Linked DNA regions of Homo sapiens: region 2 is linked to region 1. Evidence: fine-mapped expression QTL. A gene starts in region 1. The other region holds a variant in brackets. All regions are shown on one strand. Distances are from middle to middle.

What was found. PIP is the estimated chance that this variant, and not a neighbour inherited with it, causes the effect.
Region 2: its variant is fine-mapped to the expression of TFR2 in nucleus accumbens (GTEx, PIP 0.95).

What each region holds. Positions count from the first base shown.
Region 1 is chr7:100,639,290-100,644,656 of GRCh38, reverse strand. It overlaps TFR2 (transferrin receptor 2), which reads left to right and starts at 3,105. Exons shown (of 18, transcript NM_003227.4): 1 at 3,105-3,180; 2 at 3,429-3,681; 3 at 3,785-3,971. The coding sequence starts at 3,148. ACTL6B (actin like 6B) reads left to right here. Exons shown (of 14, transcript NM_016188.5): 14 at 1,331-1,560. The coding sequence ends at 1,411.
Region 2 is chr7:101,347,609-101,352,975 of GRCh38, reverse strand. No RefSeq gene overlaps it. Among named protein-coding and RNA genes, the nearest start is that of COL26A1, 13 kb to the left of the region's middle. The variant C/T (reference allele first, on the strand shown) is at 2,775.

The DNA of each region.
Region 1 (5,367 bases):
TGGGCAACAAAGCGAGACCTCATCTCTACAAAAAATTTAAAAAGCAACTGGCAATGTGGCGCATACCTGTAGTCCCACCTACTTGGGAGGCCAAGGTTGGAGGATCACTGGAACCTGGAAGGTTGAGGCTGCAGTGAGCTGTGCCACTGCATTCCAACCTGGGTGACAGAGCAAGATCCTGTCTCAAAAAAAACCCAAAAAAATTGGGTGTGTATTTTCCACTTAGAGCACGTCTCAATTTGGACCAGGGCTGGTGAGCTACAGGAAGCTAGTGGCCACTGCATTGGACAGCACATGTGTGTAGGCTGAGAAAGATCAAAGAAGCCCAGCCGTGGTAGCTCACGCCTGTAATCCCAACATTATGGGAGGCTGAGGTGGAACGATTACTTGAGCCCAGGAGTTTGAGACCAGGCTGGGCAACATAGTGAGACACCATCTCTACAAAAAATAAAAATTAGGCTGGGCGCGGTGGCTCACGCTTGTAATCCCAGCACTTTGGGAGGCCGAGGCGGGCGGATCATCTGAGGTCAGGAGTTTGAGACCAGCTTGGCCAACATGGCGAAACCCTGTCTCTACTAAAAATACAAAAATTAGCCGGGCGTGTTGGCACGCGCCTGTAATCCCAGCTACCCAGCAGGCTGAAGCAGGAGAATCGCTGGAACCTGGGAGGCGGAGGCTGCAGTGAGCCAAGATCGCACCACTGCATTCCAGCCTGGGCGACAGAGCAAGACTCCATCTCAAAAAAATAAAATAAAAATAAAAATAATTAAAATTAAAATTTTAAAAAAATAGAGAGAAGGGACACTCTGAGATGCTCATTGCAGGAACCCTCAAGGGGCAAGTTGTAATGCCGAAGGCTGCAGATGGGGTGCCACAGTGTTGGAATGGTGAGGTGGAGGGAATATCTTCCTTGGGAAAGAGGGAGACTGGCGGTGTTCCAAAGCCCTGATGGAGTGAGAAGAGGACACCTGGTGGGGAAGGACTGTGTGTGTGTAGGGGGTGTTGAGTGCCAGGTGCAGGTTGCCTGGCCTGGGGCTGTGCGTGCCATCCCCCCAGCTCAGGAACAGGGCCTAGCTCAGGGCAGAGACTGCTGTTCAATAATACTTGTTGAATGAATGAATTATTGATTGAATGATATGAAGAGGATACTCTCCCTCTGAATATGAAAGGGGACAGACCGAGGAGGGGAGGATGAGGTGGGGAGGGGCTTCAGAGGGATGTGAACCCAAGGGGTGGTTGGGGCCTGTTGGAGGATTCCCAGGGGCTGCACCTGCCTGTCCACACCTCCCTCCAAGGCCACCCTGACCCTGATATTACCCCCTCCACCCAGGGCACTTTCCAGCAGATGTGGATCTCCAAGCAGGAATATGAGGAGGGCGGGAAGCAGTGCGTGGAGCGAAAGTGCCCCTGATGGCACTCCTCCCCACACACCTGCTCCCAAGCTCAGATGGAAGTCCCTTAACCCCCATGCCACATTGCCCCCCTCCTCCTTTCCCTCTTGTCCTCATTAATGGTGATGTTTCTGGGTTGAAAGAAGTAAAAATGTTTTAAGAAAAAAAAGTTTGGCCTCCGTGGGGTGGGGAGTGGGCACAGGGGTCTGGAGGGAGGTGAGGGGAGGGAGTCTCACTTCTACACCCATGCCGATCCCACAGTGGGTGCTGGGACACAGCCCCAGGGGCCATGGATTCCTCAGGTTTCCTAGGGGTTGTGACCCAGGGAGGGCCACATGACGAGGACCGGGGGTTGGGGGAGTTGCTGGGGGCTAACAGTTGTGGTGGGAGGTGGGAGGGGCTGCAGGGTGCAGTGGAGGGGCACGGCCTGGGGTGAGTGTGGCAGGAGGTGGGTGGAGCAGGAGGTGAAGCCTGGATGGGCGGAACAGGAGGTGGGGCCTGGTGGGCGGGGCCTCAGCGTAGGCCTTAGGTCTCAGGGGAGCAGCACGCCTGAGCACCCCAGGACCTGCGCTCAGGTGAGATGCGCTATGCCTTCCTTCCTGGGGCTCTTGGTGGTGACAGACATGGGGCGGGGACTAGGGCGCTGGTGCATCCCAGCAGCTCGGAACTTCTCTGGACCTGAGTAGGAGCTGATGTTTCCCAGGGGAAACCCGAAAGGGAAACTTGGTGGGACCCTGAGCCCTCCTCTTCAGAGCTACTTGTCTTGGGGCCCTCGGAAGGGTTTGGGGACCTGCGCCCCCTGCCTGTTTAGCAGTTTATGCCTGTGACATGTTTCTGGGGTGAGGCTAACTGGCCTTTCATCAGCCTCAGAACCCAAAGAGGTAGAAACCCATGTGATCCAAGTCCTTCGGTGACCAAACGGGCCGGTGCCCAGGGAGGACCATGACTTGTCCAGGGTCACCCAGCTCTGCCCACACCTTGGCGGGGACTCTGATCACTCCTCCCCACTGACCCACATATCCCTGACCCCAGGACCCCTATCTGGGAGCTCTCGCTGGTCTCATCTGACCATGTGCTCCCACCTGTGCCCCTCCTTCTCCAGCAGCCAGCAGGAGTCTGAGAACGACCTTTCAAAAGAGACACACATGCACACCACCAGACCAGACCCCCAAGTCACACCACTGTGGTGCCTCCAGCTTAGAATGCCACTGGGGCAAGTGTCAGGACAGGGAGGACAGCTGATATGTCACAGGACCGGGGCACTGGGGGACTCTGAAGGCCAGATGAGGAAGGGGCAGATGTCTTAGGGGTGAATCTTCCACCTGGGCATGGCGGGGCTTAGGAAGGGGTCCCCAGGATCCAGGGAGGGGTAAAAGCAGGAGAGGGGAGGGGGCACCCATGTCTCTGCCCTCCCCCACTATCGGCCCCCTTCCCCCACCCCTGATGGGAACTAGGAGGCCAAAGTCCGCCCCAAGGTCAAAAAATTGATTGTTTTGCAGGGAGGAGGCAGGCGTGGGGCTGTGGAGAGATTGGCAGGGGAGAGCACAGCCCCTTGTGCTCTGGCCTGGACCCGGGGGCCACGTCTGGAAGGCTGGACTGAGGCCAGGACTGTGCCCCCACCCTTGGGGGTGGTGAGGAGCAGCCTTGGTTCAGGCTGCCTGCCAGGACTGATAAGGGGCCCTCCTAGGGCTCCCACAAACGGTTTATCGGTTTATCGCTGGGGGACAGCCTGCAGGCTTCAGGAGGGGACACAAGCATGGAGCGGCTTTGGGGTCTATTCCAGAGAGCGGTAAGACTAGTGGGATTGGGAAGACCCCTTAGGCCTTCTCTCTAAGTCCCTCAGCCCCCTCCCAAGCCCCTGAGGCTGGCCCCTCCTGGACCGTGTCCTGACCTCGCTTCTTCCCACCCCTGCCCCTCCCCCACGCCCCCACCACCATGCTCATTTGACACCCCCAAGTCACTGACCTCATTATTGCCAGATGCCTCCCCACCCCCCAGGCCTCTTGCCCCAATCTCATGCCCACCTCGCCTGCACAGCAACAACTGTCCCCAAGATCCTCTCAGACCGTCTACCAGCGTGTGGAAGGCCCCCGGAAAGGGCACCTGGAGGAGGAAGAGGAAGACGGGGAGGAGGGGGCGGAGACATTGGCCCACTTCTGCCCCATGGAGCTGAGGGGCCCTGAGCCCCTGGGCTCTAGACCCAGGCAGCCAAACCTCATTCCCTGGGCGGCAGCAGGACGGAGGGCTGCCCCCTACCTGGTCCTGACGGCCCTGCTGATCTTCACTGGGGGTGAGAGCCGTCCCCCTCCCCAGAAGTGAAGGGCTTGGGCTGGGGGAGATTTCTGGGGTCCAGAGGTGGGCATAAAGAGAATCCCCATCTTGCCACCCGCCAGCCTTCCTACTGGGCTACGTCGCCTTCCGAGGGTCCTGCCAGGCGTGCGGAGACTCTGTGTTGGTGGTCAGTGAGGATGTCAACTATGAGCCTGACCTGGATTTCCACCAGGGCAGACTCTACTGGAGCGACCTCCAGGCCATGTTCCTGCAGTTCCTGGGGGAGGGGCGCCTGGAGGACACCATCAGGTAGGGATGGCCCTGCCCCATCCTGTTCTCGAGTGTCCCTCCCCTCATCCGCTCAGACTGGGCCTCCCTGCCTCCTGGCCCAGGCCTCTGGTGTCTGGGTCCCCCTCCTGAGTCCTCCCATCTGCCTTCCTGGCCCCCCTGTTCAGCGGTCCTGGGAAGGATGGCAGGCATTCGGAGCTGAGGTTCCAGGGGACTGAGGCTCTGAGGGTGGCATATTTGGGAGGTGAGGGAGCTGACTGTCTGAGATCAGAGGGGTGCAGCATCCAGTATCAGACTGGACAGACCCAGAAAAGCCTTGAATGCCTCACCCAGGCGCCTAGATTTGGAGCAGGGAGCGCTGAGGGGTTCTGAGAAGCCGCATTCTAGGGAATCAGAAAACCAAGCAAGCAAGCCTGGGCAATACGATGAAACCCCGTCTCTACCAAAGAAAACACAAAAATTAGCTGGGGATGATGGCGAGTGCCTGTAGTCCCAGTTACTTGGGAGCTTGACGGGGGAGGATTGCCTGAGCCGGGGAGGCGGAGGTTGCAGTGAGCCGAGATTATGCCACTGCACTCCAGCCTGGGAGACAGAGCGAGACCCTGTTTCAAAAACAAAATAACGGCAGGGTGCGGTGGCTCAGGCCTGTAATCCCAGCACTTTGGGAGGCGGAGGCGGGCAGATCACTAGGTCAGGATATCGAGACCATCTTGGCTAACACGGTGAAACCCCGTCTGTACTAAAAACACAAAATATTAGCCGGGCATGGTGGCGGGCGCCTCTAGTCCCAGCTATTCGGGAGGCTGAGGCAGGAGAATGGCTTGAACCCAGGAGGTGGAGCATGCATTGAGCCGAGATCACGCCACTGCACTTCAGCCTGGGCAACAGAGCGAGACTCCATCTCAAAAAAAAAAAAAAAGAAAAGAAAAAAAGAAAAACAAGTAAGCAAATGCATTTGTGGGTGCAGATCCAAAAGCTAGGTCCACCCATAGCCCTCTTTTGGGACGGGAGTAATTTTTCAGTGGATTCGCCTGGGTTTTCTAAGTAGGTAATCAGCTAAGCTACAGATAGTAGGAGATGGAGATTCTCTTTTCCAATGCTTATACCTTCTACGTTTTTTTTTTTTTCATTTCTCATTGCATTTGAGAGGACATGAATTTAAGGTAACCGTGGCAGTAGGTATCCTTGCCTATTTCCTGACTTTAATAGCAATGCTTTTATAATACTTTGCCATTGACAATGAACTTTGCTGTGCTCCAGACAGCTTTTTAAAATTGAATTAAGGAAGTTTCCTTTCACTCCTAGCTCACTGAGACTTTTATTGATTGATTGATTTTTTGAGACGGAGTCTCCCTCTTATCACCCAGGCTGGAGTGCAGTGGTGCAATCTTGGCTCACTGCAGCCTCCGCCTCCCAG
Region 2 (5,367 bases), 710 kb before region 1:
TTTTATTTTTGAGACCAAGTCTCACTCTGTCACCCAGGCTGGAGTGCAATGGCACGATCTCTCCTCACTGCAACCTCTGCCTCCTCAGTTCAAGCAGTTCTCCTGCCTCAGCCTCCCAAGTATCTGAGATTACAGGCACATAACACCACACCTAGCTAATTTCTTTTTTTTTTTTTTTTTTTTTTAGTAGAGACGGGGTTTCACCATGTTGGTCAGGCTGGTCTTGAACTTCTGACCTCAGGTGACCCGCCCGCCTTGGCCTTCTACAGTGCTGAGATGACATGCGTGAGTCACCATGCCTGGCCAGATCAGATTTCTAGATGAAAGAAGACAAGCTTCACCAAGGAAGTGGGCTCCGTGACAGTTTTGTTTCCAGACCTTTCTGATAAGAACGTAATCAGTCAGCATCCTCTTCAGCAGACAAAAAGCAGATCTTGCTTCTGCTGAAGTCAGCAGGGAGAGCCACTGAACAGAGAAGTAAATACTCATGATGCTAAAGCCAATGTAAATATTGACCTCTTGGCATGATAAATCCTCCTGTTAATCTAAAACAGAGATCCGCCCCACCACACCCATTGCCCTATAGAACATGGATTCTGCAATTCTCTCAGAAGTTCAGGAAGGTGCTGGTAGGAACAGAATTGTTTTCATCCTGATTTCTCCAGCAGTCTGTGCTCCCAGCTGTTCTGGATCCCAAAACAACGCAGGAATGGGCTGGAGTTAACTCAAGGGAGCAGGGGAGTCAAAACAAAAGATTTCTTTGCTTTGCTGCAAGTGTTCCCTACTTGGCCAGGGCAAGATGCAAGCAGAACATATAGATATTATAGAAGATCTCCACTTTTGATTTTTTTTTTTTTTTTTTTTTGGAGACATGGTCTCACTCTGTCGCCCAGGCAGGAGGGCAGTGGAGCGATCGTGGCTCACTGCAGCCTTGACCTCCTGGGCTCAGGTGATCCTCCCACCTCAGCCTCCCAAGTACCTAGGACCACAGGCACACACCACCATGCCCAGCTAATTTTTTGTAGAGACTGGGGTCTCCCTGTGTTGCCCAGGCTGGTCTCAAGCTCCTGGACTCAAGCAATCCCTCCACTTCAGCCTCCCAAAGTGCTGGGATTACAGGCATGAGCCACCTCGACCAGCCTGAATTTTCTTCTTTACCTGGACACCCCCAAAATTCCACTCAGGCCCTATGAAAGTGAATACTTCTTTGCTCTGCCTACCAACAGGTATAAACTTGCCTGTTTCCTCAAACATCAGTGGTGAACTAGATATTCGGAAGACAGCAAATTAAATGGCTATTCCAATAGTCCATTTTGTTTTTGTTTTTGGTCTTTTTGAAGATGGAGTCTTGCTCTGTCACCCAGGCTGGAGTGCAGTGGCCGATTTCCACTCACTGCAACCTCTGCCTCCTGAGTTCAAGCCATTCCCCTTCCTCAACCTCCCAAGTAGCTGGGACTACAGGCGCAAGCCACCATGCCTGGCTAATTTTTTTTTTTTTTTGACAGAATTTTGCTCCTGTTGCCCAGGCTGGAGTGCAATGGTGTAATCTCGGCTTACCGCAAACTCTGCCTCCCGGGTTGAAGTGATTTTCCTGCCTCAGCCTACCAAGTAGCTGGGATTACAGGCATGCGCCACCACGCCCAACTAATTTTGTATTTTTAGTAGACACCGAGTTTCTCCATGTGGGTCAGGCTGGTCTTGAACTCCTGGCCTCAGGTGATCCATCCTGCCTCAGCCTCCCAAAGTGCTGGGATCACAGGCATGAACCACCGCATGCACCCGGCTACCTGGCTAATTTTTTTTTTTTTTTTTTCTGAGACGGAGTCTTATGCTGTCGCCCAGACTGGAGTACAGTGGCGTGGTCTCAGCTCGCTGCAAACTCCACCTCCCGGGTTCAAGCGATTCTCCTGCCTCAGCCTCCTGAGTAGCTGGGACTATAGGCGCCTGCCAGCACACACGGCTAATTTTTGTATTTTTAGTACAGGTGGGGTTTCACCATGTTGGCAGACTGGTCTCAAACTCCTGACCTCATGATCTGCCCACCTCCGCCTCCCAAAGTGCTGGGATTACAGGTGTGAGCCACCATGCCTAGCCAATTTTTTTGTATTTTTAGTAGAGACAGGTTTCATCATGTTGGTCAGGTTTGTCTCAAACTCCTGACCTCGGGTGATCCGCCCTCCTCAGCCTCCCAAAGTGCTGGGATTACAGGCATGAGCCACCACACCTAGACTCAAAGGGATCTTCTTGATGCCTGTCCATCTGCACCGTTGGGGGGCCTGGTCACATTCCTGTCCTTCAGTTTCCCACCTGTGTCCTTCCTTCTCACCAATCCAACCCTAATCCATGGCAAGCCACACCAAGCCCGCTGGTGCCCAGCAGGTGAGACATCATGTCTCCCTCAGTTTGATTTACAGGATCTTTCAGAAGAATACAAAAAGACATTGTCCCTGGCCAGACATGGTGGCTCATGCCTGTAATCCCAGCACTTTGGGAGGCTGAGGTGGGTGGCTCCCCTGAGGTCAGGGGTTTGAGACCAGCCTGGCCAACGTGGTGAAACCCCATCTCTATTAAAAATACAAAAAAATTAAGTCATGCGTGGTACTGGGCACCTGTAATCCCAGCTACTTAGGGGACTGAGGCAGGAGAATCGCTTGAACCCGGAAGGCAGAGGTTGCAGTGAGCCAAGATCACGCCATTGCACTCCAGCCTGGGTGACAGAGTGAGACTCCACCTCAAAAAAAAAAAAAAAAAAAAAAAAAAAAAGACATTATCCC[C/T]GATACCACACAATTCGAAGTTAGCAGGTCAGAGGAGCGAGTGGAGGCAGAGGGTCTGGTGACCAGGAAATCCACGTGGTGTCGAGAGAGGATTGGAAGGTAGAGGAAGGTGGAAGGTAGAGGAAGGATTCAAACAAAGCTAAGAGGTAGGGAGGTGCCTTGAGGCAGAGGTGGGCAGAGGGTCAAAGGTAATACTGTGTGTGGGGCTGAGATGGCTGAAACATGAAGGGGCTAGGTTTGAACCAAAGGCGCACGCCCAACTAAACACACATGTGCTCTTGGCAGGGACTCACACCTGTGCACACCACAGGGGCTCATACCTGTGCTCACAGTGTGTCCAGAATTGGTGGGTCCTTGGTCTCACTGACTTAAAGAATGAAGCCACGGACCCTCACGGTGAACGTTACAGCTCTTAAGGTGGTGCGTCTGGAGTTTCTTTCTGATGTTCGGATGTGTTCGGAGTTTCTTCCTTCTGGTGGGTTCGTGGTCGCGCTGGCTCAGGAGTGAAGCTACAGACCTTCACAGTGAGTGTTACAGCTCTTAAAGCGGCGCGTCTGGAGTGGTTCGTTTCTCCCGGTGGGCTCATGGTCTCACTGGCTTCAAGAGTGAAGCTGCAGACCTTCGCGGTGAGTGTTACAGCTCATAAAAGCAGTGTAGACCCAAAGAGCAAAACAACAAGACTTCCACACTCTGGCAGAGGACCCGAGCAAATTGCTACTGCTGGCTCGGGCAGCCTGCTTTTATTATCTTATCTGGCCCCACCCACATCCTGCTGATTGGTAGAGCCTAGTGGCCTGTTTTGACAGGGTGCTGATTGGTGCGTTTACAATCCCTGAGCTAGATATAAACGTTCTCCACGTCCCCATCAGATTAGTTAGATACAGAGTATTGACACAAAGGTTCTCCAAGGCCCCACCAGAGCAGCTAGATACAGAGTGTCGATTGGTGCACTCACAAACCTGGAGCTAAACACAGGGTGCTGATTGGTGTATTTACAATCCCTGAGCTAGACATAAAGGTTATCCAAGGCCCCACCAGAGCAGCTAGATACAGAGTGTGGATTGGTGCACTCACAAACCTTGAGCTAAACACAGGGTGCTGATTGGTGTATTTACAATCCCTGAGCTAGACATAAAGGTCCTCCAAGGCCCCATCAGACTCAGGAGCCCAGCTGGCTTCACCCAGTGAATCCCACACCGGGGCTGCAGGTGGAGCTGCCTGCCAGTCCCGTGCCATGCGCTCGCACTTCTCAGCCCTTGGGTGGTCGATGGGACTGAGCGCCCTGGAGCAGGGGGTGGTGCTCGTCGGGGAGGCTCGGGCTGCACAGGAGCCCATGGAGTGGGTGGGAGGCTCAGGCATAGCGGGCTGCAGGTCCCGAGCCCTGCCCCGCGGGAAGGCAGCTAAGGCTCGGTGAGAAATCGAGCGCAGCGCCGGTGGGCTGGCACTGCTGGGGGACCCAGTACACCCTCCGCAGCTGCTGGCCCGGGTGCTAAGTCCCTCATTGCCCGGGGCCAGCAGGGCTGGCCGACTGCTCCGAGTGCAGGGCCCGCCAAGCCCACGCCCACCCAGAACTCCAGCTGGCCCGCAAGCGCCGCATGCAGCCCCGGTTCCTGCTCGCGCCTCTCCCTCCACACCTCCCTGCAAGCTGAGGGAGTGGGCTCCAGCCTTGGCCAGCCCAGAAAGGGGCTCCCCCAGTGCAGTGGTGGGCTGAAGGGCTCCTCAAGTGCCGCCAAAGTGGGAGCCCAGGCAGAGGAGGTGCCGAGAGCAAGCGAGGGCTCTGAGGACTGCCAGCACAATGTCATCTCTCAACAGCAGGGACTCAAACCTGTGCAGGCACACCGAGCTGGAGAGAGGACATCTCCCAGAGGCGGCTGACCAATGAGCCAGAGTTCTGCCTTGAGATACAATCAATCCCCCAATTCTCAAATCCCTTCCTCACCTCCAGCCCCACCCAGGAAGCCCAGAGCTCATGAAAAAAACCGTGAGGAGGAGGCATCTGTGCGGCTTTGGAGACCAGCCTCAGGCTACAGGTTGCAAGAGGAAGCCATGGTCTTCTGAAGAGCAAGTCCAGGGCAGTTGTCGTGGCTCACACCTATAATCCCAACAGTTTTGGAGGCCGAGGTGGGAGGATCACTGGAGCCCAGGAGTTTGAGAACAGGACAATAAAGTGAGACCCCATCTCTACAAAAATAAAAAAAAATTAGCCAGGCATGCTAGCGTGCGCCTGTGGTCCCAGCTAAATGGAAGGCTGAGGCAGGAGGATCACCTGAGCTCAGGAGATCAAGGCTGCAGTGAGCCATGTTTGTGCCACTGCACACCAGCCTAGGTGACACAGCAAGACACTGTCTCAAAAAATAAAGAAAATACGTGCATAAATATAAAAAGGAGACCAGGTCCGCAGCTGGAGGGCTGGGTGGCAGTGGGAAATGAAAATCCAAGGAGCAAAACCAAAAAAGTGTGCAAAAGCCAGGCACGGCAGAGAGCAAGCCATGGCCCCGGCGATCGCTGAGAGGGCGGCGCTGCCCCGTCCGCCCCCAGACATCGGCATCCTCCCCTCCCATAGGCCCTCAGACTCAGCAAGTTAAAAACTGAA